4 linked regions of the Homo sapiens genome follow. The protein of the gene in region 2 purifies or fractionates together with the protein of the main gene of each other region. This does not show direct contact. Each region holds a gene or a part of one and is shown on either strand. Other genes may lie near its edges. The genes, in order: SCCPDH, CPLX2, DEGS1 and ANKRD13C.

What was found.
Region 1: the proteins of CPLX2 (region 2) and SCCPDH purify together in Homo sapiens (affinity purification with mass spectrometry; 2 studies listed by BioGRID and IntAct, with this or other methods). This does not show direct contact.
Region 3: the proteins of CPLX2 (region 2) and DEGS1 purify together in Homo sapiens (affinity purification with mass spectrometry; 2 studies listed by BioGRID and IntAct, with this or other methods). This does not show direct contact.
Region 4: the proteins of CPLX2 (region 2) and ANKRD13C purify together in Homo sapiens (affinity purification with mass spectrometry; 2 studies listed by BioGRID and IntAct, with this or other methods). This does not show direct contact.

The regions. Positions count from the first base shown.
Region 1 is NC_000001.11:246,719,169-246,727,435, forward strand, and holds the start of SCCPDH (saccharopine dehydrogenase-like oxidoreductase), read left to right. Parts: upstream 1-5,240; 5' UTR 5,241-5,254; coding exon 5,255-5,444; intron 5,445-7,723; coding exon 7,724-7,836; intron 7,837-8,267.
Region 2 is NC_000005.10:175,874,578-175,881,577, forward strand, and holds part of CPLX2 (complexin-2), read left to right. Parts: intron 1-4,074; 5' UTR 4,075-4,162; coding exon 4,163-4,193; intron 4,194-4,330; coding exon 4,331-4,506; intron 4,507-5,270; coding exon 5,271-5,468; 3' UTR 5,469-7,000. UniProt on the Homo sapiens protein: Negatively regulates the formation of synaptic vesicle clustering at active zone to the presynaptic membrane in postmitotic neurons.
Region 3 is NC_000001.11:224,178,926-224,186,412, forward strand, and holds the start of DEGS1 (sphingolipid delta(4)-desaturase DES1), read left to right. Parts: upstream 1-4,314; 5' UTR 4,315-4,411; coding exon 4,412-4,493; intron 4,494-4,754; exon of another isoform or gene 4,755-4,906; intron 4,907-7,487. UniProt on the Homo sapiens protein: Has sphingolipid-delta-4-desaturase activity. Converts D-erythro-sphinganine to D-erythro-sphingosine (E-sphing-4-enine). Catalyzes the equilibrium isomerization of retinols.
Region 4 is NC_000001.11:70,295,533-70,303,020, reverse strand, and holds part of ANKRD13C (ankyrin repeat domain-containing protein 13C), read left to right. Parts: intron 1-2,112; coding exon 2,113-2,257; intron 2,258-6,759; coding exon 6,760-6,891; intron 6,892-7,488. UniProt on the Homo sapiens protein: Acts as a molecular chaperone for G protein-coupled receptors, regulating their biogenesis and exit from the ER.

The sequences.
Region 1 (8,267 bases), on a different chromosome or scaffold from region 2:
CTTAAACAAAAATTAATTCACGATGGATTAAAGACTTAAATGTTAGACCTAAAGCCATAAAAACCCTAGAAGAAAACCTAGGCAATACCATTCAGGACATAGGCGTGGGCAAGGACTTCATGTCCAAAACACGAAAAGCAATGGCAACAAAAGACAAAATTGACAAATGGGATCTAATTAAACTAAAGAGCTTCTGCACAGCAAAAGAAACTACCATCAGAGTGAACAGGCAACCTACAAAATGGGAGAAAATTTTCGCAACCTACTCATCTGACAAAGGGCTAATAACCAGAATCTACAATGAACTCAAACAAATTTACAAGAAAAAAACAAACAACCCTATCAAAAAGTGGGCGAAGGACATGAACAGACACATCTCAAAAGAAGACATTTATGCAGCCAAAAAACACATGAAAAAATGCTCATCATCACTGGCCATCAGAGAAATGCAAATCAAAACCACAATGAGATACCATCTCACACCAGTTAGAATGGCAATCATTAAAAAGTCAGGAAACAACAGGTGCTGGAGAGGATGTGGAGAAATAGGAACACTTTTACACTGTTGGTGGGACTGTAAACTAGTTCAACCATTGTGGAAGTCAGTGTGGCCATTCCTCAGGGATCTAGAACTAGAAATACCATTTGACCCAGCCATCCCATTACTGGGTATATACCCAAAGGATTATAAATCATGCTGCTATAAAGACACATGCACACGTATGTTTATTGTGGCACTATTCTGTTGCGGGAAGTCAGGGACCCTAAATGGAGGGACTGGCTGAAGCCATGGCAGAAGAACGTGGATTGTGAAGATTTCATGGACATTTATTAGTTCCCTGAATTAATACTTTTATAATTTCTTATGCCTATCTTTACTGCAATCTCTAAACATAAGTTGTGAAGATTTCATGGACACTTATCACTTCCCCAGTCAATACCCTTGTGATTTCCTATGCCTGTCTTTACTTTAATCTCTTAATCCTGTCAGCTGAGGAGGATGTATGTCACCTCAGGACCCTGTAATAATTGCATTAACTGCACAAATTGTACAGCATGTGTGTTTGAGCAATATGAAATGTGGACACCTTGAAAAAACAACAGGATAACAGCAATTGTTCAGGGAATAAGAGAGATAACCTTAAATTCTGAGTGCCGGTGAGCCGGGCAGAACAGAGCCATATTTCTCTTCTTTCAAAAGCAAATGGGAGAAATAACACTGAATTCTTTTTCTCAGCAAGGAACATCCCTGGGAAAGAGAATACGCACCTGGAGGTATAGGCCTATAAACAGCCCCCCCCCAGGTGCACCTGTCTTTTATGGTTGAGACTGCAGGGGATGAAATAGACCCTAGTCTCCCATAGGGCTCCAAGGCTTATTAGGAAGAGGAAATTCCCGCCTAATAAATTTTGGTCAGACCAGTTGATCTCAAAACCCTGTCTCCTGATAAGATGTTATCAATGACAGTGGTGCCCGAAACTTCATTAGCAATTTTAATTTTGCCTCGGTCCTGTGGTCCTGTGATCTCGCCCTGCCTCCATTTGCCTTGTGATGTTCTATTACCTTGTAAAGTACTTGATGTCTGTGACCCACACCTATTCACACACTCCCTCCCCTTTTGAAAATCCCTAATAAAAACTTGCTTGTTTTTGCGGCTTGTGGGGCATCACAGAACCTACTGACATGTGATGTCTCCCCCAGACGCCTGGCTTTAAAATTTCTCTCTTTTGTACTCTGTCCCTTTATTTCTCAAGCTGGCCGACACTTAGGGAAAATAGAAAAGAACCTACGTGAATATCGGGGCAGGTTCCCCAATACTATTCACAATAGCAATTCTTGGAACCAAGCCAAATGTCCAACAATGTTAGACTGGATTAAGAAAATGTGGCATATATACACCATGGAATACTGTGCAGCCATAAAAAGATGATGAGTTCATGTGCTTTGTAGGGACACGGATGAAACTGGAAACCATCATTCTCAGCAAACTATCACAAGGACAAAAAACCAAACACCACGTGTTCTCACTCATAGGTGGGAATTGAACAATGAGAACACATGGACACAGGAAGGGGAACATCATACACCGGGGCCTGTTGTGGGGTGGGAGGAAGGGGGAGGGATAGCATTAGGAGATATACCTAATGTTAAATGATGAGTTAATGGGTGCAGCACACCAACATGGCACATGTATACATATGTAACTAACCTGCACGTTGTGCACATGTACCCTAAAACTTAAAGTATAATAAAAAAAAGATTTATCATGTATTCTTAACATTTTGTGTGCATATACATACATTGTTTTGTCTTAAATATACTCTTGTAATGTTAGGAAATTTGGAAGATTTTCCGTGTCACTATACACAGTTTTGTTTTGTTTTTTTTTTTTTAGAAACATAGCCTTGCTCTGTTGCCCAGGCTGCAGTGCAGTAGTGTGATCATGATTTACTGTAACCTCGAACTCCTGGGCTCAAGCAATCTTCCCACCTCAGCCTCCCAGGTAGCTAGGACTACAGATGCACATCACCACACCCAGCTAATTAAAAAAAAAAATTTTTTTTTTTTTTTTTTTTTTTTTTAAGAAATGGGGTCTTGCTACATTGCCTAGGCTGGTCTCAAACTTCTGGACTCAAGTGATCCTCCTGCCTTGGCTTCCCAAACTGCTGGGATTACAGGCGTGAGCCACTGTGCCCAGCCTACTTCATTCTTTTGTTTTTGTTGTTGTTGTGTGTTTTTTACCTAGAACCACCTGAATAGTCATTCTTCATTCTTTATAGCTGCACAGTTCCTATTGAATGAATAGGACACCATAATTTATTTAATAATTCCTCTGATAAAGGACATTTCAGTTATTTCTACTTTTTGTTATTACAAAGCAATGCTGCAATGACCATTATGTTAGTCCATTTTTGCGTTGCTTTAAAGGAATGCCTGAGGCTGGTTAATTTATAAAGAAAAAAGTTTATATTTTGGCTCATGGTTCTGCAGGAAGTACATCAAGTGTAGTGCCAGCATCTGCTTCTGGTGAGGCCTCAGGAAGCTTCCAATCGTGGCAGAAGGTGAAATGGAGCCAATGTATCACATGGTGAGAGAGAGACCAAGAGAGAGAAGGATGAGTGCTCTTTCAACTACCAGCTCTTGTATGAACTTATGCAGAGAGAACATACTCATTATCCTGGGGATGGCACCAAGCCATTCATGAGGGATCCACCCCCATGACCCAAACATCTCCCACCAGGCCCCACCTCCAATGCTGGGGATTACATTTCAACATGTGATTTGGGGGGGCCAAACATCCAAACCATAGCAAGCATGCTTCCCAAAAAACAAAATATATATATATATATATATATATATATATATATATATATATATATTCTGTTTTTTTAGGGTTTTTTGTTTTCTTTTGTTTTTATTTTCTTTTTAGAGACAATATCTCACTTTGTCACCCAGGCTGGAGTGTAGCTCACTATAACCTCCAACTCCTAGGTTCAAGCAATCCTCCTGCCTCAGCCTCCCAAGTAGCTGGGACTAAAAGTGCATGCCACTGTACCTGGCTCTGTAAGATTATTTTTTAGTGACTGTTTACTCCACTAGAATGTAAACTTCTTGAGGGCAGGGGCTTTATTTGTTGCCATATCCCCAGTACTTTATTCCTAGTGCCCAGTATATAGTTAAGTGTTTAATAAATACTTGAATGCTTACTACTTTACACCCACCAGATGGACAAGCATGAAGTCTGAGAATACCAAGTGCTGACAAGCACGTAAAGCAAGAGGATTCTTGTATCCCGCTGAGAGCGAAAATTAGTGCATGTGCTTTAAAGAGCAGTGAGATAACTCAAATATGGATATTCTAGCACCAACCATTTTCATTCCTGACACATATTCAATACACTTTCGCACAGGTGCTTTAGGAGAAAGGTACAAGAATTTTATTGTAGCATTCTTTGTATTATATTGCACAAAAGCACTATACAACATTGTACAAAAGCATTGTAGAATTTGGTGTATTTCTCTCTCTCTCCCTCTCTCCACACACGTATCACAGACATTTTTTTTTATTCTGAATCATTTGGGAATAAGTTCACGACATCATGACCAAATAAGAAAGCTGCAGGATTGACATTTACAAAATATTCAAAATATGCAAAACGGTACTATAATATTTATAAATACATACATATATAACAAGCAGAAAGATAGGAATAGGAATAATAAACACTAAATTCAGGCAAGTGGCCGTCTTGGGGACGCAAAAGGAAATGTGTTCAGGAATGAATACCTGGAAGCCTCGCTATCTGGAATATTTTTCTTAAGCTGTGTTGAGGGTACATATTTGTTATTGGCTGTACCTTTTTTGCAAGACATATATTTCAAAATTTTTAAAAGCATTCATTTATTCCTATTTTAATGAGAGTTTTTAAAAATCAGGAATGGGCTGGGTGCAGTGGCTCATGCGTGTAATCCCGACCCTTTGGGAGGCCGAGGTGGGTGGATCACCTGAGGTCAGGAGTTCGAGACCAGCCTGGCCAACAAGGTGAAAACCCATCTCTACTAAAAACACAAAAATTAGCAGGGCGTGGGGGCGCTCCCCTGTAATCCCAGCTACTCGGGAGGCTGAGGCAGAATCGCTTGAACCCAGGAGGCGAAGGTTGCAGTAAATCGAGATCGCGCCACTGCGCTGCAGCCTGGGCGACAGAGTGAGACTCCATCTCAAAAACAGAAAAGAGAAAAGAAAGGGAAAAAAGGGAAGAAAGAAAGGAAGAAAGCAAGCAAGCTCAAGGGTTCTCGGGGTGGGCCATCCCCGAGGCCATCCGCAGATTTTCTCGCACTCTTTGCTCCACCCCCACGTGCAACAAGGACAACCGGCTGCCGCCTCCAGCTTCCAGCAGGGCTAGAAGATGCGCTGCCCGGGGCGGCCAGAGCCCTGCAGAACAAACCGCCGCACGGAATTAGGGGCCGCCGTCCGCGCCTGCCAGGCTTGGAAGCGGACTCGCCCCCAGGGCCACCGCCCTAGGAAACCTCCCGTCGGAAGCCTCCCAAGCAAGCCGCTCACCCGCGGCTCCCGCGCGAGGCGGCGTGGGCGTGGGCGCGGCCCTGGCGCGGCGGCGCGCGCGGGGTGAAGGGAGCCCGGCGCGCTGGCTGCGGCGACGGCGGCCGTTGCTGCGCCGGGTACTGGGGTCGCTGCCTGAGGCGCAGGCGCCGTGGACTCCACCCGCCCCGGGGCCTGGGCTCGCTGTGGACTCGTCATGGCGACCGAGCAGAGGCCTTTCCACCTGGTGGTGTTCGGCGCGTCTGGCTTCACCGGCCAGTTCGTGACCGAGGAGGTGGCCCGGGAGCAGGTGGACCCGGAGCGGAGCTCCCGCCTGCCCTGGGCCGTGGCGGGCCGCTCCCGGGAGAAGCTGCAGCGGGTGCTGGAGAAGGCGGCCCTGAAGCTGGGTACAGCGGCGGGGCGGGACGGGGCTGCGCGGGCGGCTGGGCCGGGGACCCCGCATCGCCCCAAACGAGCGTTTCTCCCGCAGGGATGCGCCCTACGTGTCCCCGAGCCCTGCGTGAGGACAAGAAGAGGAGAGGGAGAGATGTTTCAAATACTGCCATAGCTTTGTCCCACCTCCTTAACTATATGTGTGTGTGCGCGTGCGTGTATAATATACACACACATTTTTTTTTCTTTCCTTCTCCTCTTTCCCGCTTTTTGCATTTCTGCCTCAGTTTGGGGAGCTCCCCTGGCGAAATGGTCAAGAACTTGAGTTGTCCCTCTCTCTGCTTCATCCTGCCCCGCAGCGGGGGCACCTGTTGAATCTGCGGGTTTCTAGATGTTTGGTCGGAGAGGAGAGGAGGGCTTTGGTCTCTTGGAGATCGGAGTCTCCCTTTGCCTCGTGTTTTGAGGACGGGAGAGCAAGCTTACGAGTTGTACTGACAGTGTCTTTGTGGCTATTCTGTTTTAGTTTCTTGTTTTGTGTGTAAGAATACTCCAGCAGTCTTCCTCTTCAGAGAATAAAAAGTGTGTATTTCTGGTTTAGACGCTTACGTATTCTCTAAGCATTCAGGTAGCATGTATTTATTGATAATCTAAGCATTCAGGTAGCATATATTTATTGATAATCTAAGCATTCAGGTAGCATATATTTATTGATTCTCTAAGCATTGAAGGAGCATATATTTATTGAGTGACGTTGTCCATGCTAAGACCTGTCCCGAGTCTGGGGTGCAGGATGGGACAGAGAGGAGACAGACACACGGATCCTGCTGCCTTCATGGCTGGGGAGACATCTGACTTACGACTCCGTAGCCTTTAAATTTGGCTATTAACTCCCGTAGATTTCCCTTATACAGACACCCATTAGAGTTCTGGAAATACTACATTCTTTCTGTTTAATCTACTTTCATACAATGCCCTGCTCGGAGTGCTTTTGTTCGTGGTTATGTACAGAAGACACCACGTAGGCTGGACTCTCCTACAGCTTTTGGTGCTGACACTACCAACACGTAATTCTGACCAAAGAGCTTTTTGGTCGTTATTTTTCCAACAGAAGTAATTTTACTATGAAAATATATGCTTCCATTTCTTTTTTCGGCTCAGCAAGATCGTACCGGTACAGCCTAGTCACTTATCATATATAATGCCCAAATCAAGTTTCATTGTGGGGGGATATACCTTCACCTATTGAAACCTGCATCACTTAGTTGAGCCAGTTAATTCCAATTATTTTCTTATGAGCCTGTGTGTGTTTATATAGCGTGTGCTTTTCACCTCAGAGTTCTAATTTTTTGTTTTTTGTTTGTTTGTTTGCCATTCTCCTGCCTCAGCCTCCTGAGTAGCTGGGACTAGAGGCGCCCGCCACCACGCCCTGCTAATTTTTTTAGTAGAGACGGGGTTTCACCGTGTTAGTGAGGATGGTCTCGATCTGCTGACCTCGTGATCCACCCTTCTCGGCTTTCCAAAGTGCTGGGATTACAGGCGTGAGCCACTGCACCCAGCCCTGATGGTTTTGATGTTAACAGTCAGTCCGAAACTCTCCATCACCTACAATTGGATCATAGTAATTGTTTAGTGGTTGATGAGAAACTTTATTTTTTTAAAGACAAGTTCTCATTCTGCCACCCAGGCTGGAGTACAGTGGCGTGATCACAGCTCACTGCAGCCTTGACCTCTGTGTCTAAGTGATTCTACCGCCTCAGCCTCCTGAGTAGCTGGTACTACAGGCTATGCCACCATGTCAGATAATTTTTTTTTTTTTTTTAGTAGAGACAAGGTCTTGCTATGTTGCCCAAGCTGGTCTGGAACTCCTGAGGTCAAGAGATCCTTGCACCTTGACCTTCCAAAGTGCTGAGCCACTGCCCCTGGCCAAGAAACTATTTTATGACATAAATTTCTTGTTGGAGAGGAAGTCTGGATAGTTATCTGCTCAGCATTTAAACTTGATTGTGAAATTGTCATGTTACACAGGGTTGTTATTTACACAACGCTTTGATTCGATTTTTTTTAAAAGGTCAGTTTTTTAGTAACTCTTAGTGTTAACTCAGTTTTCCTCATAATTTTTTCCTTTTGTATTACCTGATTAAAAACAGTTTTATCTTTTGTCTAAGCAGGAGAGCTAGCTTTCAGCATATCAGTGTATTTAGTAATTTGCTGTCACTGATTACTGTAAAAAGAAGATAAGGAAGATATAATCCTCTACTGGGATTTACTTTCCTTCATTTGTTTCTTATTTTAGGAAGACCAACACTGTCATCTGAAGTTGGAATCATCATCTGTGATATTGCTAATCCAGCCTCGCTTGATGAAATGGCTAAACAGGCAACAGTTGTCCTCAATTGCGTAGGACCAGTAAGTAATCAACCCTTCTTTGTATCAGAACAAACAATCCATTCATTTCTAGCAAAATATTCCAGAGGAACATAAGGACAGAGGACAGAATTGTTGGTTGAAGGCCTTAACCCCATATGGGGAGTTTTTTCTTCTTGCGAGGAGCAGCTGGAGATGACCAAAGTCTCCTGAGAGAGTGAGTGACAGGCTCTCCATGACGTTCTCCTTAGGGCATGTGTGCTGGCTTGTTGATTGGTTACATCTGTGATTGTCAGAATTTTCTTTCCTTTTTACTATATACCCCTTCGGTAAAAAATGTTTGAGTGTGTCTCCCTAGTATATTTTTTATTTATAAATTATATTCTTGTACTACTGGGTAAATATATTTTTTAAATGCACAAAAAGAAGACTAAAAAACGACTCATTTATTGAATAAATATTTATTGATGCTT
Region 2 (7,000 bases):
GGTGATTGGGACAAGGCATACTAGAGAAAAAGATGGGTGTGTGGGGAAAGCCAGGATGAGACTGATCTTTGGACAGACAGAATTTGAGATTATCCATGTGACAACATCCAGCAGAGAGTTAAATGTGCAGGTGTAGGGGAGGGGAGGCAGAGAGAGGGAGGTATCTGTGGCTAAAGAAGTGCACTAAACCAATAGGGGTGGACGAGATTCCCAAGGGAGACAGAGGGGCAGGAGAGGCAGGAGGGGAGAGTTTGTTTGGAGACCATCTTCACTTTAAAGGAAAGGAAAGGAGTCAGCAAAGAAGAGAGAGAAGACCTATCTGAGAAGTAGGATGAAGACCACAAGAGTGCTGTGTCATGGAATTCAGGAGGAGATTCCAGAAAGCTGGAAAAGGTGGGGGGAGGGAGTCAGCAGCAGCATGTGATTCAGCAGAGGGATGGAGGAGGATGACGGCCGTGAAGACCCTCTTGAATCTGGCAATGGGAAAGCCTCTGGCGACTGATTACCGCAGTTTCAGGGCTCCTGCAGAGGCAGCAGAGCTCTGGTCTCACAGAGAGGTAGGGCTTGACTGGGAGGTGAAGATGTGGAGATACCATGTGGAGATCACTTCATCACAAAGTGAGAGGGGTGGGATTAAGGGAAACGCAGAATTTAGGGAAGGAGTTAGAGAAGGGAGGGAATAAAAGCAACATATGGAGAGGGATGGAAGATGTGAGGAAGAGGGAGTGGTGAGGTACAAAGAGAGGGAATCCAGGGCACAGGTAGATGAATTGGCTTCAGCCAGGAGAGGGCTTCTTCCTCAGGAGCTAGAAGGAGGGGAGGTTACAGGAGCTCCCACTCACTGACATTAATTGTTTTGATTATTACAACCATTTACTGAGCACCCAGCATGTGCAAACACATCCCATAGAGTATTTCTAAAATTTCAAAGTGCCATTATAATTCTCATTTTATAGAGAAGATCAAGTATCAATGAGGTTAGGTCAATTACTCACTATTGCACAGCTTAAAAAGTGGCAGATTCAAGATCTGAGTCAGGCATGCCTAACCTCAGAGCTCAGACCCCTTATACTTTCGCCCGTGAAGTGGAGGGAAAGTCACCTGCTGAGAAGGAAGAGGCAGTAGCATTTTGGGCCTTAAGAAAAGGAGAATTGGTTGGGAGAGTGTAGACAGAGTGAACAGGAGACTGCTTAACAGCTCAGAGGTCCATGCTGGGATCAGGCAGCAGGATTTTTGGGCAGACTCGGGAATTTCAGATAAAGAATCCCAGCAGGCTGAAGAAGAGCTACTTAGAGCCACAGGGATGTAAGCATTGAGAAGACTCAGTGGTGAGTAGAGGTACTTTGCAAACTGGTGGAGGGGTGGCAGTGGTAAACAATGTCTGATGAATGCATGCTGGCAAGCAGAGGTGGCCGGAGAAGGTGATAGTTTGGTGATACAGAAATGGCATGTTAAGTTTGAGGGGTGCCCACAGACATCCAGGAAAGGGTATCCAGGAGAAGGTAAATGTGTTTTTTTACTTATTTATTGCTTATTTTCCTACGCATGTGTGCATATACCCCCACACTCACATACACACATACATACCTCAGAATGTAATCTGCATGAAGGCAAGGCTTTGTCTGTCCTGTTTCCTATAAATCCCCAGTGCCTAACACATTGACTGGCATATAGTAGGTGCTCAATTAATACTTGCTGGATGAGTGAATATAGAGGTCTAGGTGTCATCAGTGTCAGTGGTCATTAAAACCCCTAGAATGGATGAGTTCTCCCAGGGAAAGATTAGAAAGTAAAAAGAGGCAGGGGCTGAGGTCAGAGTTATGGGGAAGAGACAGGAGGAAGAAGAGGAGTCAGAAAAGGCAAAGGAAGAGAAGAAAAGAGGAGAGGAGAGGAAACAGTAAGGGGAAGCAGGGATAGGAAAGAACTGAGTCACAGAACCAAGAGAGAAGGAGGTTTGAGGGTACAGTGGGGTTGTCAGCAGTTCAAATGCTGCAGACTGCTTCAACAGAGGCATGGGAGAAAGGGCCTGGAAGATCATCTGATCCAGGAGAGAGACGTGTCAGAATCACCCAGCAAGTTAGGGATGAGGCTGCAACTAAAGCCCGGGTGCCCTGCCTACCAATTTGGAACATCTCAAATTAGAGCCCTGCATCTCCCACTGCCACCTGGTAATTCCTTGAGCTCTATGTAAACACAGAGTAGGAACCCAAGAGTTTCTGAAATCACTTGATTATTAAATTGTTCATTTCCTGTTCTTAGAAATGAAGTTTTTTCACAATGTATTAAATCGAACGAAAACATCTTGACTGAGCTGAGCAACCTGCAAACTCAGAATTCGGGGTTAGGAGGGTGGGTTCTCTTGCATTTCTGAGAAAGCATGGAAAGCCTGTTCCTTTTTGGCTTGTTCCACAAATATGTAGTCGGCAACGGCTGACATTTTATGAGTTCCTGCAACACCCCAGGCACTTGACCGGTATCATTCATTCTCCTTCAAACGTCCATTCAAGGGCAACCTTAATACTCCCCCATTTTGCAGGGAGCAAACTGAAGCTTGCCCAGGGACCCCCAGCCAGTAAGTATAGCTGCCTGGATTTTGAACCAGGTGTGTCTGATGCCAAAGCCCCTGGGCTGTTTTGTGTTTTGCTTTTTTTTTTTTTTTTTCCTACACATCATGACTTTCTCTTCCCAAAACAACCTATCAGATGAGATGGTCTGATCACGTAGATAAGCTCTTGGGCCCCATATCATGAAATAATCTCAGTCTACCGATATGACTTCTCATCTTGAGAGAAATGAAGAAAATCTATCAAAGAACAACCAGTGACCCTGAACTCAGCCAGGCTGCAATATCCAGCCTTGAACCCAACAAGGTTGCAACATCTGCCACCCTTTCCCAGGAACCCTTTTTCTTCCTTGCAAGGCTGTGTGGGACAAAAGGCCTTGGGGAGCAGGCCTGGCCTCAGCTTACCATGAAGCTACTTCACACTTTGGATAGCTCACGGATGTCCCCTCTACACTTGAAAAGAGATCTGTGTCTGTTAAAGAACAGTGGAACTGAATGGTTAAAATACAAAGAAAATCTCAAGTTAGAGCACTAGGGTTCAGCTTCTCAGGGATGTAGGGGGAAGATGGTAAGGAGGCCAAGGGGGAAGGCTCTTCCTCCCCCACCACCTCCACTGGAAGAGTTCCACTTTTACATATTTTGCATATTGAGAATCCCATTAAGATTTTATTTGGAGAACCCTTCTGAGGCAAAAACATAATAAAAAATATAATAAAAACTGAAAGCCGGTGATTTAGGAAGAGGAGTAGGGTGCTAATGTCTGCCGAGTGCCTGCAAGGCCCGTGCTAGGTAGTTTAAAAGCCCTAAGCCCCCAGAAGATTATAATGTCTCCAACACTCCCACGTGAAATTCAAAATAAAAATCGATATTAAGCTATAAAACATAAAAATTACACGTACATTACAATAAAAATAACGTATTTTCCATTTGTCTAATTTCAAAAGTCAGGATCTGTTTATCCAAGCTGGCTGTTCTCATTTGCTCAGCTGCCTCCGATTGGCTGGGGCAGTAACACCGGCTGGTCTTTTGATGGGCTGATCCAGTGGCCCAGGCTGGGCCCCCTCCAATCTCCGCCGGAGCCGGGGAAAGGTGGCATTGCCATTTCTCTCTTAGAGAGGAGGAAACTGGGGACTCGAGCAGGTTAGGGCCTTGCTGAAGGTCCCATGGCAAATAAGGAAATGACGGTGGCGTTGGAAACCAGATCTGCCTGACTCCAAGTTCCAGGCTCTTTCCAATGCTCCTGGCTTCAATCAAATCTGAACAATAGGGTCAAGATGAAGGCTTTAAAATAGGGACCAAACCGCTTTCAAAAAGCTATTTGGCAGCACCTACGTGTCTGCCCAGTAAATCGCTCTCTTCCATCTCCTTTCTCCTCCAGCAGGGCATTGGGTCTTGACCTCAGAGCGATGGGTGCCTGGTGTCTGAACCAGGGTGAGGCTGCTGTCTGCCTAGCTCCCCCGCCCTGCCTGTGCAGAGGCCTCTCCCATCTGACTCCCAATTCTCTTCTGCAGGTTGTCACATCTTCCCAAGCCAGGCCAGCCAGGAGCGCTGCATGCAAATTCTGCCGTGGGCTAAGGCACGCTAACCAGAGCCGGCGGCATGGACTTCGTCATGAAGCAGGCCCTTGGAGGTGAGGTCCAGCGCCCCTCCGCGTGTCCTCAGCCGGTCCCACCCTTGTGGGAGGTGGCCTCGGCCCACCCGGCCCCTCTCTCCCCAGCCCTGACCCCTAGCTGACCCCGCCCTCTCCTTCCCACCCCTTCCTCGTAGGGGCCACAAAGGACATGGGGAAGATGCTGGGGGGAGAGGAGGAGAAGGACCCCGACGCGCAGAAAAAGGAGGAGGAGCGGCAGGAGGCGCTGCGGCAGCAGGAGGAGGAGCGTAAGGCCAAGCACGCGCGCATGGAGGCGGAGCGGGAGAAGGTCCGGCAGCAGATCCGAGATAAGGTCAGCTCCGCCCGCCCGCCCGTCCTGGGGAGGGCCACAAGCGGGTAAAACCGGTCCAGCTAAAGCCCCTGCTGGGGCTCCCCTGGATCCCAGCTCTCACCTTCGCCCTAGTTCTGAGCCTCACTCTTCTCATCAGCAAAACGGGTATCACAAGGTCACCTCCCTCAAGGGATCCTTTTGGGGATTAAATAAGAGAATGCGCGTAGTAGGTACTCCAAGAGGGTGGACCCTACGGTCCACCATTTCGTACTGCAGATCTTTGGGACCAAAAATGAGTGCAGTTCTGAATTTGGGAATGTTCGAAAAATACCACAGTGTCCTAAGCACTTTGTGCTGTCAGCTGTCACTCCCAGCGGGTCTGGGGCTGCCACCCTACTCCAGACAGTCCAGTGCATGTCTGTTAGTGCGTGCAATAAATAAAGGCTAGAAGTAGTCTTCCATTGGTTCAAGTCAGATTCGTCACCAAAATTTGGCTCAAAATATATGGGCAAACGCCATGTGTTCAGATCTTTGGGGGTTTCAACACAGCAGGAAGTTCTGATGGGCAGGTGTTAATTTTAAAGGAAACCCCACGTATGGTCTCTCCCACTGAGGACCAGGCACCATCCTACAGGGAAGACACCCTTATCCCCACTTTACTAATGACAGGACTGAGGCTTGGGAGGCACTCCTGGCCACCTCAGCCAGTGCTGCATGATCATGAGACTCCTGCTGTCTCCTTGCCCACCCCGCTTCATGCGCGTCTCTGCCCTCCCCCTCCCCAGTATGGGCTGAAGAAGAAGGAGGAGAAGGAAGCAGAGGAGAAAGCAGCCCTGGAGCAGCCCTGCGAGGGGAGCCTGACCCGGCCCAAGAAGGCCATCCCTGCGGGCTGCGGGGACGAGGAGGAGGAGGAAGAGGAGAGCATCCTGGACACGGTGCTCAAATACCTGCCCGGGCCGCTGCAGGACATGTTCAAGAAGTAACCAGGCCTCCTGCCCCAGCCTACTCCACCTGTTACTACTTCTTTTTGGTTCTTTCTTTTCTTTTTATTAGGTTAAGTCTCAATTCTGAAGGGGAAAACCTCAGTTGGCCTCTGCCCCTCTTCCCTGGCCAGGGGCTTCTCCCCCTCAGCTCTCCCTCACACCTCCCTTCATCCCAGGGTATCCACCTGCACCCCACTCCCAAGTAGCTTGAAAAAGGGAGGACAGTCTTTCCCCAGCAGGGGTCAGGGGGGCCCCTCAGGAAGCCTAAGGTCGTGCTAGTGTGGTGACCCCCATACATTCCTCCCTGCTCCCCACTGCCAGGAGGACCACTGTCCCCAGCCAGCCAAAGTAATGACACATTCCAGCCCTGCCCAGCATGCTGACCTTTGGCCTCTAACCCTCAGTGGGCCCCCAGGTCAGGGCAGGGGCACTGAGTGGCCTGGCTCTGAGGAAGGGAGTCAGGGGAAGCCTGTCCCGGGAAGGCCCAGGCTGAGAGGCCCTGGCTCTGGCCAGGCTGGGATCTGGGTGGGAGGCTGGGGCTCTTCTTCTTCCATCTCCTTGGTGACACCCAGCCCAGGGGCACCCCCTTCCCCAGCCCCCACCTGGAGAGACATGGCCCCTGCCAAGCTGGTCCCTTCAAATGGATCCTTTGTGGACTTTAGCTCATTTGTGGAGGAACCCCAGGTAGGGACGCCCCTTGTTCCTCACCCCCACCCCACTTAGGTCCTGGGCCCCCACTGCCAGGCTGGGCCCAGCTTGCTCAGTCAAGGGGCTGCCAGGCCCCCAGAAAACACTTGGAGCCATCGGGTAGCGATGGTCTATGCCATGGGGAACACCTCCATTGGTGTGGCCAAGCTGCCCCCATTCCTATCCACCCCTCTCCCCACCCCGTCCTGTCCATGCGCTTCCAGGGCCCCACGGTCCCCAGGAGGACGCTTCCTGGCCAAAGCCCCAAGCCTTTGGTGAGAAGCCAATTCCCACTTGACAGAAGGCGTCCATCCATTCATCTCATTGGCCAAGGACAAACTCTCCTCTGGGACGTCTGGGACTGGCATTTGTCCCCCACTCAAATTATCAAAGCTTTCTGCTCAGTCAGTTGTGTGGGGATGGTGAGGGAAGAGGGGTCACATGAGGGAGGAAACTGTATCCATGCATGCATGATAATGCGTGGCAGAGACTGCAACAGGGATTGTGTGTTCAGAGATCATATGCATATGTGTAGGGCTGGAGCGTGTGTGTGTCTTGAGATTGTGTGTGTTGCAGTCATCATATCTATGTGTTACAGATTGTGTATGTTAGCCTTGTGTATGTGTGCTTGATTGAGGTGGTGTATTTGGGTTGAAATTGTGTCATATGTGTGTGCTATCCATCTCGTGTTTAGAGGCTGTATATGTTAGCTTGTGTAAGAATGTGTTTTCAAAACAGTGTGTGTATTGGGAGTGATGGGTATGTGTTAGGTATGTGATGGGTTGTAGAAGCGTGTGTTTGAGAGAATTCAGAGACATTTGAAGGCTGCTGTGTGCATGTTTGGG
Region 3 (7,487 bases), on a different chromosome or scaffold from region 2:
AATAAACTGCCCTTTCAAAAATCAAGCAGATGGAAAAGGAAAAATCCATATTGATTTCAAAAGTACAGCTGCCCTCATCTGAAAACTACTTCATCTTAAATTTCCTAATATGATCATGGCTGGCTGCGATTCACCACAGCTTCCAACAGCCGACTGGAGAGCGTTTTTCCAGAATAACTAGTATGTTTGCTTCAAGACAAATTATTTGACAAGGTTAAGGAAAAGATGTGAAAGCTAGATAATCCATTAAGAATCTTTTTTTAAAACTTCAAGGCATTTTATTTATACTTCTTTTTTTTTTTTTTGAGACAGTCTCGCTCTGTCGCCCAGGCTAGTGTGCAGTGGTGCAATCTCAGCTCACTGCAACCTCCGCCTCCCGGGTTCAAGCTGTTTTCTGCCTCAGCTTCCCAAGTAGCTGGGATTACAAGCACCCACCGCCATGCCCAGCTAATTTTTGTATTTTTAGTAGAGACGGGGTTTCACCATCTTGGCCAGGCTGGTCGTGAACTCCTGACCTTGTGATCCACCCACCTCGGCCTCCCAAAGTGCTGGAATTACAGGCGTGAGCCACCATGCCTGGCTATACTTCTTAGCTTACTTTTTTATTACGCGTATATATTAAGAACTTTTAAAAGTCCAAATTAAAGAAGCATGCCTAGACATCATTAAAATAGCTATCAATGCCCATGACAATCCTGTAGCTCAAATAGTTTACTTTAGAATGTCAAAATTGATTTTGTAATAGTCAGGACAGGATAAACAGTCGCTATATTAAGACCATGTACGTGTCCCTAGACCTAGTTCTTTCCCTACGTCTGTTTTTATAAATGCTGGTGATAAACCAGGTCTGATTAATATATAATCATTTTGTGTGATTATGTAACGGCTATAATTCTAGGTTATCTTTGGTCAACCTTAAGAAAAATGGCAGTATATGTAATGACTTTTGCAAATGATCAGTGCTAATTTGCAGACTTTTGTTTAAAGAGGGTTTAAACAAAATAAGAAAATTTCATGATTACCAGTTGCTATTAAATGAATTGTAACTTTTTTTAAAAAAAAAGAATGTCCAAGCCAGGTGTGGTGCTCATGCCTGTAATCCCAGCACTTTGGGAAGCCAAGAAGGGCAGATCACTTAAGGTCAGGAGTTCAAGACCAGCCTGGCCAACATGGTGAAACCCCGTCTCTAGTAAAAATACAAAAAGTTGCTGGACGTGGTGGCACACACCTGTAATCCCAGCTACTCGGGAGGGTGAGGCAGGAGAATCGCTTGAACCCAGGAGGCAGAGGTTGCAGTGAGCCAAGATCTTGACACTGCACTCCAGCCTGGGCAACAGAGCGCAACTCCATCTCAGAAAAAAAAAATGGTATATCCAGATTCACATTTTTTTTCAAACTCTGCATTTTTCTTTCTTTCTTTTATTTTTTAATGTTTTTGAGACAAAGCCTCACTCTGTCACACAGGCTAGAGTGCAGTGCCACAATCTCAGCTCATTTCTCAGCTCATTGAAGCCTCGACCTCCTGGGCTCAAGCAATCTTCCCACCTCAGCCTCAGCAATAGGTGGGACCACAAACATGGGCCACCACGCCCAGTTAAATTTTTTTTTTTTTTTTTTGAGACGGAGTCTTGCTCTGTCGCCCAGTCTGGAGTGCAGTGGTGCGATCTCGGCTCACTGCAAGCTCCGCCTCCCGGTTTCATGCCATTCTCCTTCCTCAGCCCCCCAAGTAGCTGGGGCTACAGGCGCCCCCCCCACCATGCCTGGCTAATTTTTTTTGTATTTTTAGTAGAGATGGGGTTTCACCGTGTTAGCCAGGATGGTCTGGATCTCCTGACCTTGGAGACCGCCTTGGCCTCCCAAAGTGCTGGGATTACAGGCATGAGCCACCATACCCGGCATAATTTTTGTATTTTTTATAGAGGTGGGTTTTTGCCATGTTGCCCAGGCTTGTCCCGAACCCCTGCCCTCAAGCGATCCCCCTACCTCGGCCTCCCAAAGTGCTCAGACTACAGACGTAAGCCTCCGCACACCTTTTGGACTGGTGTGCCAGTTCACACATGCCTGTGATAGCAACTGCGTTCTGAACTGCAGGGATACATTTACTTGTCAGCACCTGAAAACTTCCTCCTGAGTTGAGTCCAATTATCAGCTTCATGTGCCATCTGCCAATCCAGATGAAACTTGGCAAATACAAAGCTGTCCTTTTCCAGGTGACACTCCCCACCTTCTTTTTCCTCCACCATTTCATTAACAACTAAAAAGCTCCTGCATGATCAGACCTGTGTATCTATCCATCATCAAATCCCACTCCTTTTTCGAGACTGGGACCCTCTGGAGGCTGACCCAGCCACGCATTTGCTAGCATGCCCTGCAGACATGACCCTCGCTGGGCTCTGATCAGCCTTCAGGCCTCCACTCCAGGTGTCACTGTTCTGTCTCCCCTCTGCTCTCACAGCCTTCTCTGCTAGATGTCTCAGCCGTGCTGGCCCTCTCTATTTCAGAAGTGAATGTACTGAGAGGGTCTTAGGGACTTATTAATAATGCTCCTGGGGTCGGATGTAGTAGCTCATGCCTGTGATCCCAATACTTTGAGATCACTTGAGCCCAAGCGTTTGAGACCAGCCTGGGCAACAAGGTGAGGCCCCATCTCTATCAAAAATTCAAAAAAGTAGCCAAGCATGGTGGTGCACGCCTGTGATCCCAGCTCCTCGGGAGACTGGGGTGGGAGGATGGCTTAAGCTCAGGTCAAGACTGAAGTGAGACATGAGGCCACCACTGCACTCCAGCCTGGGCAACAGAGCAGGACTCTGTCTCAAAAAAAACAAAACCCACTATAACCATAATACTATTATCACACTTAAGAAATTCATAATTCCTTAATATCATCACATATCCAATTGATATCTGAGTTCAATTATTTCATGTCAATGTTTTTAAACTATTTCAATCAGAATCTAAATGAGGTCAACACGTTGCAATTGGTTGGTATGTCTTTTAAACTCCTTTTAATCTACAGGTTTCTCTTTTTTTGCCTTGAGTTTCATTTATTAGAGAACCCAGACATTGTCCCATATAGTCTCCCAGAGTTGGATCTTGCTAGTTTCATCCCCACGGCCTAGTTTAACACATTCCTCTGTCCTTTCTATTTTCTTTTTTTTTTCTTGAGAGGGAGTCTCCGTCTGTCCCCCAGGCTGGAGTGCAGTGGCTCCGTCTCAGCTCACTGCAACCTCTGCCTCCCAGTTCGAGCGATTCCCCTGCCTCAGCCTCCTGAGTAGCTGGGATTACAGGCGCCTGCCACTACGCCCAGCTAATTTTTTTATATTTTTAGTAGAGACGGGGGTTTCACCATCCTGATCAGGCTGGTCTCGAACTCCCGACCTCAGGTGATGGACCCGCCTCTGCCTCACAGAGTGCAAGGATTACAGACGTGAGCCACCGCACCCGGCCAAATGTCCTTTCTATTTTCTATAAATTAACAGTCAGATCTAGGGGCTCGATCAGATTTGTGTGTGTGTGTGTGCCGTGTGCGCGTGCACAGCATGTTCTTTGACTAGGAGGCACACCTGCTTTGGTTATCTTCTTTTTGTAATCTTTAAGTTGCTCTTTGATGTAGACGTGGTAACTAATGTTGAAACAAAATTAGTTTCGTTTCAAAACCTTTCTTTCAGGAAGAGGTTGTGGTTGATTACTTCTGCGACAGGTAGATGCAAGGTTGAGCAATCATCTCTTAACAGAAGTGGTCACACTAGAATAATTCAAGCACAACAACAAATCCCACATCATCACCCCCTCTTAATAATGGTGTTTTCTTTTTACTTGATTAGCTTTTAATTGTCACGCACTCTGCATTTTTTCCCTGAGGTATTATTTCCAGAAGGCAGCGAAATATGACTCAATGGCTAATTTGCTTTTTAAAAATTAAACAAAACTTAGGCCAGCTGCCATTTAAGAAGGGCTCCGGGGCCTCCAGACTCGGTGTGACCGTAGCCGTGCCCGGTGCTCCCCTCGCGGAGGCGTTAGGGCGGCAGGTTTATCTCACTTGAGACCATTCCTTCCTTTTTCATCTTCTCCGGGCTCCGGCGCAGCAGGCCGCAGGGGCGGGCACTCGCAAGAACGCGGCATCCTGGATGGTGGCCGAGTCACCGAAGCTCAGAACCCCGCGTCCCAGAATCGCTGAGAGCCGGCCCCGCACGGGGGCCTGGGAGCGCCACGCGCCCTCCACCCAGAGAGGCAGGCGGGCGGGCCGGGGGGGGCGGGGCCTCGGGACTCCGCCCACGCCTCCGTCTCCTCCGCGCTCCGCCACAGCCGGCCGACACCACACCAGCCGGGGAGCCGCCGCCGCCGCCGCCACCTCTGAGCAGCCGGCTGGGAGCGAGAGCCGACAGCTAGTCTGCAAGCCACCGCTGTCGCCATGGGGAGCCGCGTCTCGCGGGAAGACTTCGAGTGGGTCTACACCGACCAGCCGCACGCCGACCGGCGCCGGGAGATCCTGGGTGAGGGCCAGCGGGCGCCCCGTTATGTGCGTGCGTGGCCTCCCGGCGCCGGGGCGCGCTCTCCCCTCGCGGGCCCTGCGCGGTCGTGGGCGCCGGAGGCCCGTTAGCAGCCTGCTCCCCGTCGCGTCCCGTCGCCGCTCGGGCCGCCAGCCCGCGGGTCAGCGCGGGAGAGGCTGGGCGAGGAGCGGGGGGAGGGACGGGTCCTCGGAGCCGCGCAGCTCCGACCCTTCCGCGAAGAGGCGCAGGCGCGTCCCCGAGCGCGGGAGTCCCCGCCAGGCCCACGCCGGCCGGTTGGGGCGAAGGGTGTCCCCGGCTGTGCCAGCCTTGAGTAGATCTTTTCGCTAGAAGATTCCTGTGCCCTCAGGTGGGCGCCCTTTCCTCTCACCACTCCCTCTCCTCCGGAGCGGGCCGAGGTGAGCGGGTGCCGGCCTTGGGGCTGCCTGAGTGCTAGGCAGGGTGTGGTCCTGGGCATCCTTGGGCCTACCAGCGAGCCCTGCTCAGGGTGTCGGGCGCCGGCGGGCAGTACTGGCGGGGGCGGCCGCAGTCCCGGCCTTGGGCCCGTTAAGGGGGCCGGCGTCCCTCCATATGCCCCCCGGGGCTTCTCGGACTTGATGGGCCCTGGTCGGTTCACGCCGCTTGTCCCATTGATCCTCACGACAAGCCTGGGACGTAAGAACGGCGGATTCGTAGGCATTTTTCATCCATCTCGGTTTTGTGGATGAAAAGACTGAAAATGGAAGACTTGCCAAATAAGGAAAATATGTGGCGTGGCCTGCTGGTCCCCTGACAGCTAATTGAGAGGCCTTAACTCTCCAGAGGATTCGGGCCTTCTGTGTTACATAGAGAATGCTCATCTCTCCCAGGCTACTCCTAATATGCTAGGGATTGTGTGGAATGCTTTACAAACATTACCCAATTTCATCCTCTTGGTAATTCTACTTGGTTGGTATTATCGCTGTTTTAAAAAATGAAATAAGAACGCGTGACTAAATGCTAGGGGGATTCTAATGCGCATTCGGTTGCCTCTTCCAGAGCACGTGTTTGTTTTTTGTTTGTTTGTTTTTTGAGACTGCACGTGTTTGTTTTTTGTTTGTTTGTTTGTTTGTTTTTTGAGACTGAGTCTCACTCTGTTGCTCATGCTGGAGTGCAGTGGCGCGATCTCCACTCGCTGCAACCTCTGCCTCCTGGGTTCAAGCGATTCTTCTGTCTCAGCCTCCCGAGTAGCTGGGATTACAGGTTCCCACCACTACGCCTGGCTAATGTTTGTATCTTTTTTAGTTAGAGACGGGGTTTCACCATGTTGGCCAGGCTTATCTCGAACTCCTGACCTCAGGTGATCCGCCCGCCTTGGCCTCCCGAAGTTTTGGGATTACAGGCGTGAACCACCGTGCCCGGCCAGAGCACGAGCTTTTTAACCTCTGTTGAGGAAACGGGGACCGGTCACGGTAGCTCAGGCCTGTAATCCTAGCACTTCGGGAGGCTGAGGCGGGAGGATCGCTTCAGCCCAGAAGTTTGAGACCATCCTGAGTAACATAGTGAGAGCCCCCCGTTTACACACACACACACACACACACACACACACACACACTTTTTTTAAATTGAGGAAACGGTGAGTTGAACATGAGCAATTATTCCTTATATATAGTATTTCCTTAGTTTTTCTTCTCAACATTCATTTGCCCAGTGAAAAGAAAAAGCAAGTAGCTGGGACCACAAGCGCACACCACCATGCCTGGTTGATTTTTCTATTTTTTGTAGAGATGGGTTTCTCCGTGTTGCCCAGGCTGGTCTTGAACTCCTGGGCTCAAGCAATCTGTCCGCTTTGGCCTCCCAAAGTGCTGGGATTTTAAAGGCGTAAGCCACTGCACCCGGTAACTTTGGGTTCTTGAATTCCCTTCCTCCTCTTCTTCCTCCTCCCCTACACTCCATTAGAGAAAGGGTCTTGCTTTGTTGCCCAAGCTGGAGTGCGGTGGTTGTTCACAGGCATGATGATCACTGCAGCCTGGGCTCCAGTGGTCCGCATACCTCAGCCTGCCAGTAGCAATTTGTTTGGCACATCACTTACACATACTTGATATGAGATAGCATGATACTTTTTTGAGACGGAGCCGCACTCTGTCACCCAGGCTGGAGTGCAGTGGCCCAGTCTCGGCTCACTGCAACCTCTCCCTCCTGGGTTCAAGCAGTTCTGCCTGCCCCAGTCTCCCGAGTACCTGGGATTACAGACGCCCGCCACCATACCTGGCTAAGTTTTTCTATTTTTATTTTTAGTAGAGACAGGGTTTTGCCACATTGGCCAGGCTGGTCTCAGATGATGCGCCTGCCATGGCCTCCCAAAGTCCTGGGATTACAGGCGTGAGCCACCCTGCCAGGCCACATATGATATATTTTATCAATGCCTTATCTACATGTTACATAGGAATAATCTAGCGTCCTACCTGTGTAAAAACCAACTCTGGAATACTGAAACTGAGCTACTTAATATTCTGAAAATCAGGACGGGTGTGGTGGCTTTTTTTTGCCTGTAATCCGAGCACTTTGAGAAGCTGAGGCAAGAAGATCGCTTGAGGCCAGTTCAGAACAGCCCCATCTGCACGAGAAATTAAAAAATTAGCTAGGCGTGCATGCCTGTCCCGCTACTCAGAAGGCTGAGGCGAGAGGAACACTTGAACTCAGGAGTTCGAGGCCAACCTGGGCAACATGGCAAAACCCCATCTCTACCAAAAAAAAAAAAATTTAATTAGCGGGACATGGTGGCATGTGCCTGTGGTCCCAGCTACACAGAAGGCTGAGGTGGGAGGATTGCTTGAGCTGGGGAGGTAGAGGCTGCAGTGAGCCGTGATTGCCCCACCGCGTTCCAGCCTGGGCAACAGAGTGAGACTGTCTCAAGAAAAAGAGATGAAGGAAGTGAGAAGGTGCTGATTGATACTTACCTCACACTGAGCCTTTTTTCCCCCCACAGACTTATCACTGAACCATTTCACTGGGAAAGTA
Region 4 (7,488 bases), on a different chromosome or scaffold from region 2:
CTTTCTGTGCATCTCTTTACTCACCTTTTCATCTCCACTCCTGGCAACCCACTACCACTTTCACCTATGATGGGCAAGCAGGGAATGGAGGCAGAAGACTGTTTTAGCCCATTTCTTCTTTTATGTAGAGCATAACATTCCCTGATAGCTGAAGCTTGGAGCCCAAATAGTGCACTTACATATAAAATGATCTGTTCCTTTTTGGTATTATCAGGAGCCCACATCTTATAGAGATAGGGGAAGAGTCCCTTTTAATACTATTTTCTTTTTTTTTTTTTTTTTTTTTTTTTTTTTTGAGACGGAGTCTCGCTCTGTCGCCCAGGCTGGAGTGCAGTGGCGGGATCTCGGCTCACTGCAAGCTCCGCCTCCCGGGTTCACGCCATTCTCCCGCCTCAGCCTCCCAAGTAGCTGGGACTACAGGCGCCCGCCACTACGCCCGGCTAATTTTTTGTATTTTTAGTAGAGACGGGGTTTCACCGTTTTAGCCGGGATGGTCTCGATCTCCTGACCTCGTGATCCGCCCGCCTTGGCCTCCCAAAGTGCTGGGATTACAGGCGTGAGCCACCGCGCCCGGCCAATACTATTTTCTTTTAGGACACATGCTCAAGCAATGATAGGTGTTATTTAATAGTAAAGCTGAATTCTAGCTTCTGGGAGTGGACTAAAAGCTAGAATTCAGCTATAAAGCAACAGGCAGCCCCCCGCCCCCCCGCCGCCCCTGTGTGAGTTGATGAGTTACTTTTTTAGGGCTTCTTGATACATAAGGCAACCATACTTCCCTCTTTGCTCTGGCTCACCCCTGTTTTCCTGGCAGAATTGTCAGTAGTGTCACTTTCATTCTTAGATTTATTAATTTTGATGATAAATTCTATGTAACCCTAGTTATTATTTTCATGCAGCATGTGAGGCATGTTTTATTTCTGTTTTTCCTGTCTAGGGAAACCAAGAATACCAACTCACTTTGCCTTGTCTGTGATGAGAACTGAAAAACCTACAGAGTAATGAATTCTTACAGTTGCATTAGAAATTCAGTAGCCAGGGTGGATTTTTCACGGAGCCTTAAAGGAGCTTCCTGGGGATGTGATCAGCATCCTTTGACAGCAGGGCCAACCAGTTTCTTGGCTTTAGGACTGTGTGTTTTGAGCAGCCATTAGCTGGGGTGATCCTGATCTGGTGATTTATAAAGCCATGTGCAAGACTGAAGCACGTCAGTGTATTGTAAACTTTTTATTTTCAGTATTTTTCCTAATTTCGGCAAGTAGTGCTTTGTGGAATACTGTTTGAGACCAGCGCATTAGGCTAGACCATGACAGGTCCAGGTTACCAAAGAGAACAGTAAACACACAAATGTGTGAATCCATGAGTATTAGATACAGAATGATCTGTAAGGTTTCCAGGGTGTGGAGATATTGGTTGGGAAAGAGAGTATTAGTCCAAATCTGAGAAGTCAAATACAAAGGCCAAGAATTTAAATGGTTTATCAAGTTGAAGGATAAAGCAAGGTTTGGTATCAGATGGTTAGGCATAAGGTTACGGGTGTATATCAGAAGAGGAGTTCTCAATTCCAAGAATGTGGTCCATCCATTGCTGTCTGGTCTTAAATACTCTGCTGAGCTAGCAACCTGGTCTTAAAGGGATCGAATAATGTCAGACAGGTCTGTGTTCCTTTTCTTCCTTCCCCGTTCACTTTTATTGAGTAGCTACAGTAAGGGAAATGGTAGGAAACAAGGGAGCAGAAAGGGAAATACCCCAAATATGGGGAAACATCTTTTTTTCTGGGTCAATGAAATATGTGTGTGTATATATATATGTGTGTGTGTATGTGTATATATATATATATATGTGTGTGTATATATATTCAGAAAATATATATGTATATTCAGAAAAGTGAAATATAGCTAAAATGGATTATATCTTTAAGTAGTTTTGTTTTTTAATAGAATATTTTAAATTTAGTTTTTATCTATAAATTTGTTTTTATCTATAAATTTGACTTTGCAATATGGTATTAGCATCTTGGTTTGAGTTTAAAAGGAACAGCTTATTTAATTATTAGTGAAGTTTTATCAAAATTATATTTGTCAGAGTTTATCATCTACCCATGTTTCACAGGCTTGACACAACTCTCATAGACTTTACTGACATGAAGTGCCAACGAGGGGATCTAAGCTTCATTTTCAATGGGGATGCGGCGCCCTCTGAATCTTTTGTAGTATTAGACAATGAACAAAAAGTTTATCAGCGAATACATCATGAGGTGAGCATGTTGTCTTATCAATATTCCTTTAAATCATTAAAAAAAAAGTATAGGTTTTTAGCAAAACCTCAGTATAATTTGCTTAAAAGCTTAAGGTATAATTGAGATGGTTTGTTCCTAAAGCTATAGTTTCCTGACCACTAGCTTTCTTTTCTTTTTTCTTTTTCTTTTTTTTGAGACTGGAGTCTCGCTCTGTCACCCAGGCTGAAATGCAGTGGCGTGATCTAGGCTCACTGCAACCTCCGCCTCCCAGGTTCAAGCAATTCTTCAGCCTCAGCCTTCAGGGTAGCTGAGACTACAGGCGCCCGCCACCAAGCCCGGCTAATTTTTGTATTTTTAGTAGAGGCTTGGTTTCACCATGTTGGCTAGGTTGGTCTCAAACTCCTGACCTCAAATGATGCACCCACCTCGGCCTCCCAAAGAGCTGGGATTACAGGCGTGAGCCACTGCGCCTGGCCTATTTTCATTTTTTATATTTCTATCCTCTGGTCTCCATCTTGACCGGTCCATTGAGCCTGCTGAGAATTCAACTGATTATCTCCTAGATCAATGAACTCCAACTTCTCTTCATTCTCATTTATAGTTTTCATTTGTTGAACCTGTGCTGGACCTTTACCATGTATTATCTTTTTATCTTACCTTCTTTTAATGTTGTTGACCATCTTTATTTTATCTCCTTAATATGAATACTTCTTTTGGCTCTGTCTGCAGTCTTACTTTTCCTAACTCTTTGGCTACCTTTCCTTTCTCTGTCCTTTCCCTCTTCAAGTACGACATGATTTTCCTTCTCTCATGCCATATCTTTGTGTTAAAAAACCATTGATATGCCCTTGATGTGGTTCTCATTTTTACAAACTGCCAGAATAATCCCTTCCATTCCCACAGTCCTATAGGTTGATGATTTACAAATATATGTTTGTGTCCATACAGTTCTGAGTAGAGGCTTATCTGTTTAAATGCCTAATGGATATCATGTGTGTCTCCCAGGTACCTCAAAATTCACCTTATTTAAAACTAACCTTGCTACTTTTCCTCCAAACCTGCTCTTTTTCCTGTTTTTCCTCTTTTGAAGAATGATGTCATTCTCTATTCAGTTAGAAACCTAGGAGTTATTTTTGATATCTTTTCTTGTACTCTGTGTTTTCTCATCAGAGCACATATCTGGTCATTTCTTTCTCCTTAATGTCTCATTATTATTCCTCTTTTATTCACACTGTCACTACTGTAATTTAAACATTCATTATTTCTCAACTGGACCATTGGAAAGTCTTATAAATGATCTTCCTGGCTCCCTTCTCATCTGCTTCTAAATTATCCCACATGTTGGAGATACATTAAACTTTAGAAACACATTTATGAAACCTTAGTTACTTAGAGATACTTAAAAAGTTCCCCATTACCTAAAGAGTGAAATCTAATCTCCTTAGCACGGCATGGTTCCTTTTGTCACCTGAGTTTTGCTCACCTTTCTAGCCTTTTTCTTACCTTACTATTTTAGATACCCTCATACTGCACTCTTGGCAGTTTGTCAGATGTGCCAGGCTATTTGGGCCTTTATTCCTTTGTTCATGTTCTTTCCACTTCCTGGAATGCTTTTCTTTTTGCACCCTCACACCTGTAGGGCATGCACTTGGTGTTACTTTCTCTCCCACCAAATGACTTTTGTTGTCCTTATGTTCCTATTAAATCTGGAACCATAAAGCTTCTAATGTTACATTTACTGACATGGCTTTTTTCCCTTCTATTGGTCTAAGCTCCTCAAGGGCGTGGGGTTCTTTTTGTTGTATTCCCTGTTATCTAATACAGCATCAGTACATTCTACGCTATAGGTTGGTAAACTCTTTCTGTGAAGGAAGAGATAATAAATATTTTTAGATATTAAAATATATTTGTGGGCCATATGGCCTCTGTCACAACTACTCAACTCTGCTGTTGTTAAAAGCAGCCACAGACAATATGTAAATAAATGAGTATATTCCATTATCATTTTATTCATAAAAACAGGCAGCTGATTATAGTTTGCTTACTCATATGTGAGCCTCTCAGATATTTATTAAATAATTTGACCTCTTACTTATGAAATGACAACAGGATAGCCAACTAGGCAATAAGTGAATTGGAAATAGGGTCTTGAAAGAGAAGCTAGAAGTTAAGGCTAGTAGTCCATAAGTATTTGTGGATGTCATAGTATTACCAAAGAACTGGTATTAAGGGTACCAGTTTTAAGGTATTAAGGTATGTATGTACTAGTATTAAGGTATGTATGTATACATACATATATGTATTATGTATTTTATAATGCCTACAATACAGGAAAGATAAATTTTGAGCAGTATTCCTTAGGGCAGAGAATACTTGTTGTTTATCCTAATATGTATGTATGTATAAGTAATAACTTCATTAAATGTTGAAGCAATGTAATTAATTAAAACAGCAGATCTTTTTCAGTGATGTGGTTAAGAGATAGTCTCTGATTTATATAAGAATTCTGTTCCAAAAGTTTATTGAAAATAGGATGTTTGAAATGTAAGGCAAATTTGCTCATAGACAATGGGTTATACAGTGTTCAGTTTCCAAGCTAATATATAAAATTCTACTTGATTCATAATATATTTGAAGTATAGTGTTTAACAGTTCTGTTTAACTACTGCAACCTAACTTTTTTTTAAAGAATATTGTGTTCAGAATTAATTTGGGTTACCAGGAATACATTTTCACCTATTATGGCTTTAGCAGTAACACCAAGATTTTGCATTCTTTACTTGTAGGGGTAGAGGAAATGGTACTGTCCCAGGCCCAAGCCATTGCTATTTTTTTGTTTGTTTGTTCTTTGTTTTTTTTTTTTTTTGAGATGGAGTCTCTCTCTGTCTCCAGGCTGGAGTGCAGTGGCGTGATTGATCTCAGCTCACCGCAACCTCCACCTCCCGGGTTCAAGTGATTCTCCTGCCTTAGCCTCCCGAGTAGCTGGGACTACAGGCGCGTGCCACCATGCCCGGCTAATTTTTTTTTTTTAGTAGAGACGGGGTTTCACCATGTTAGCCAGAATGGTTTCTGTCTTCTGACCTCGTGATCCACCTGCCTTGGCCTCCCAAAGTGCTGGGATTACAGGCATGAGCCACCTAGCCCGGTCGCCAATGGTATTGTTTTTGGAAATTCAGGAAGGGACTATATGGGCTGGGCACGGTGGCTCATGCCTGTAATCCCAGCGCTTTGGGAGGCCGAGGCGGGCGGATCACGAGGTCAGGAGATCGAGACCATCCTGGCTAACATGGTGAAACCCCGTCTCTACTAAAAATAAAAAAATTAGCCGGGCATGGGGGCGGGTGCCTGTAGTCCCAGCTACTCAGGAGGCTGAGGCAGGAGAATGGTGTGAACCCGGGAGGAGGAGCTTGCAGTGAGCTGAGATTGTGCCACTGCACTCCAGCCTGGGCGACAAAGCGGGACTCTGTCTCAAAAAAAAAAAAAAAAAAAAAAAATCAGAAAGGGACTCTATGTAGGTTAAAGTTAGATGGTGAAGAATAGAAAATGGGCCTCTTGGGAACCTAGAAATAAGGAGGTTTGGAGAATGAAGGCTCTAACTATTGTAAACCCTAGGGACTGTTATTATTCTCCAGACAACTCCCTAGGTTTTGCCTTTTTTCTTCCTTATAACGTCTTAAATATTAGTTAGGGTATCTTTCTTGGCCTATTATGGAATAGAATCTCATCTTATACCTGCTCACTTACTCTTCTGTACTTGATCATTTAGTCTTCTGTCCCTGAAGCAAGCACAAAACTTTCCTTTTTTCTCATATAAAAAATAATTATTGCTCAATTATTATATACCAGCACTAGGGAATATGTACAGGATAAAACCTGAAGCATGACTACTCATTAAGTTTAGAAATTACGGTTGATATTTATGGATTCCTTTCCATTTTATAAGGAATACAGAAAAGATCCTTTCTTGCTTCTTTTCCTTCCTTCCCTCTCTGCTGCTTCCCTTCTTCTATCCCTCCCTTCAGTTCTTCCTTTCTTCCACTTACAATTTATTGGGAAAGAAAGGCTCAAATGACAGTGGTGGATCTTTGCATTAAGAAGAACTAAAGTAAGATTAATCTGTATTGAAAGAAAAATATCCTTTATCTGGGTTTTTTTCTCAGATCTGTCAAGTTAATTCTTAAAGTTGTTTTTAAAAATTGCTCTATGGACTATACAGTTTTATAATGGGTAATCTAGTACTGCTTCCATTACATATCTATAACAGGATAATAGTACCGTATTTCATGTGTCCTGCTTTTATAGATTCATAATTAGTCATAATGCTAACTTAGAGAAGATATTAATATGTACAATTTAAACATCTAATTCTTTTTAGAGTAAGTAACACTTCACATTATTTAGAAACTATCCTTTTTGTCTTTAAAAATTGGTACCATTATAATTGTTGATATTTTCATATGTAGTACTAAGAACTTTTGAAAAACCTAGATTTTTATATTTAACTTTTGCTCACATCCCAGGAATCAGAGATGGAAACAGAAGAAGAGGTGGATATTTTAATGAGCAGTGATATTTACTCTGCAACTTTATCAACAAAATCAATTTCTTTCACGCGTGCCCAGACAGGATGGCTTTTTCGGGAAGATAAAACAGTATGTGCAAATCTAGATTTTTAAACTTTAAGCATTGTTCGGTATTTAATATTTCCAAAATAACGTGATGGAAATGCAAGAAGTAGCTTACAGAATTGTCTCCAAGTAGTTTTTTTCTCTCTTCCTTGAATCCAGATAAGGAATTATAATGGATGGTTAGAGTCAGAATGTGTCCTTGGAGAATTCAGGAAAGAAAGCTGAGCTCATTTGAATTCTGTGTCAGGAAGGACTCTTATTGCTAGCTGTCTTGTTATTATACAGGGAACAATGTTTTCACATGATTCCATTATATTTCTAGTGCTTTATTCGATAAGAAGACTACAAAAAGGGATAAACTTGACTCTATTTCCCTGAACCTGTTTGTCTCCCTACTTTAGACTTCTCATTTACTTAATATTTTTTTCTTGTATTCTATACATATGAGTAAGATTAAATAACCTTACATTTCTGCAACACTGTAGAATTGTTAAATCAAATCTCGGGGGAAGTTTCCCCATTAGTGTAAATTATTTCCATAATTCCCATTGTATCTGTCAGCAAGAGGTTATATAAGACTATTCAAATATATATTCGGAAAATTTTGAGGCTAGGCGTGGT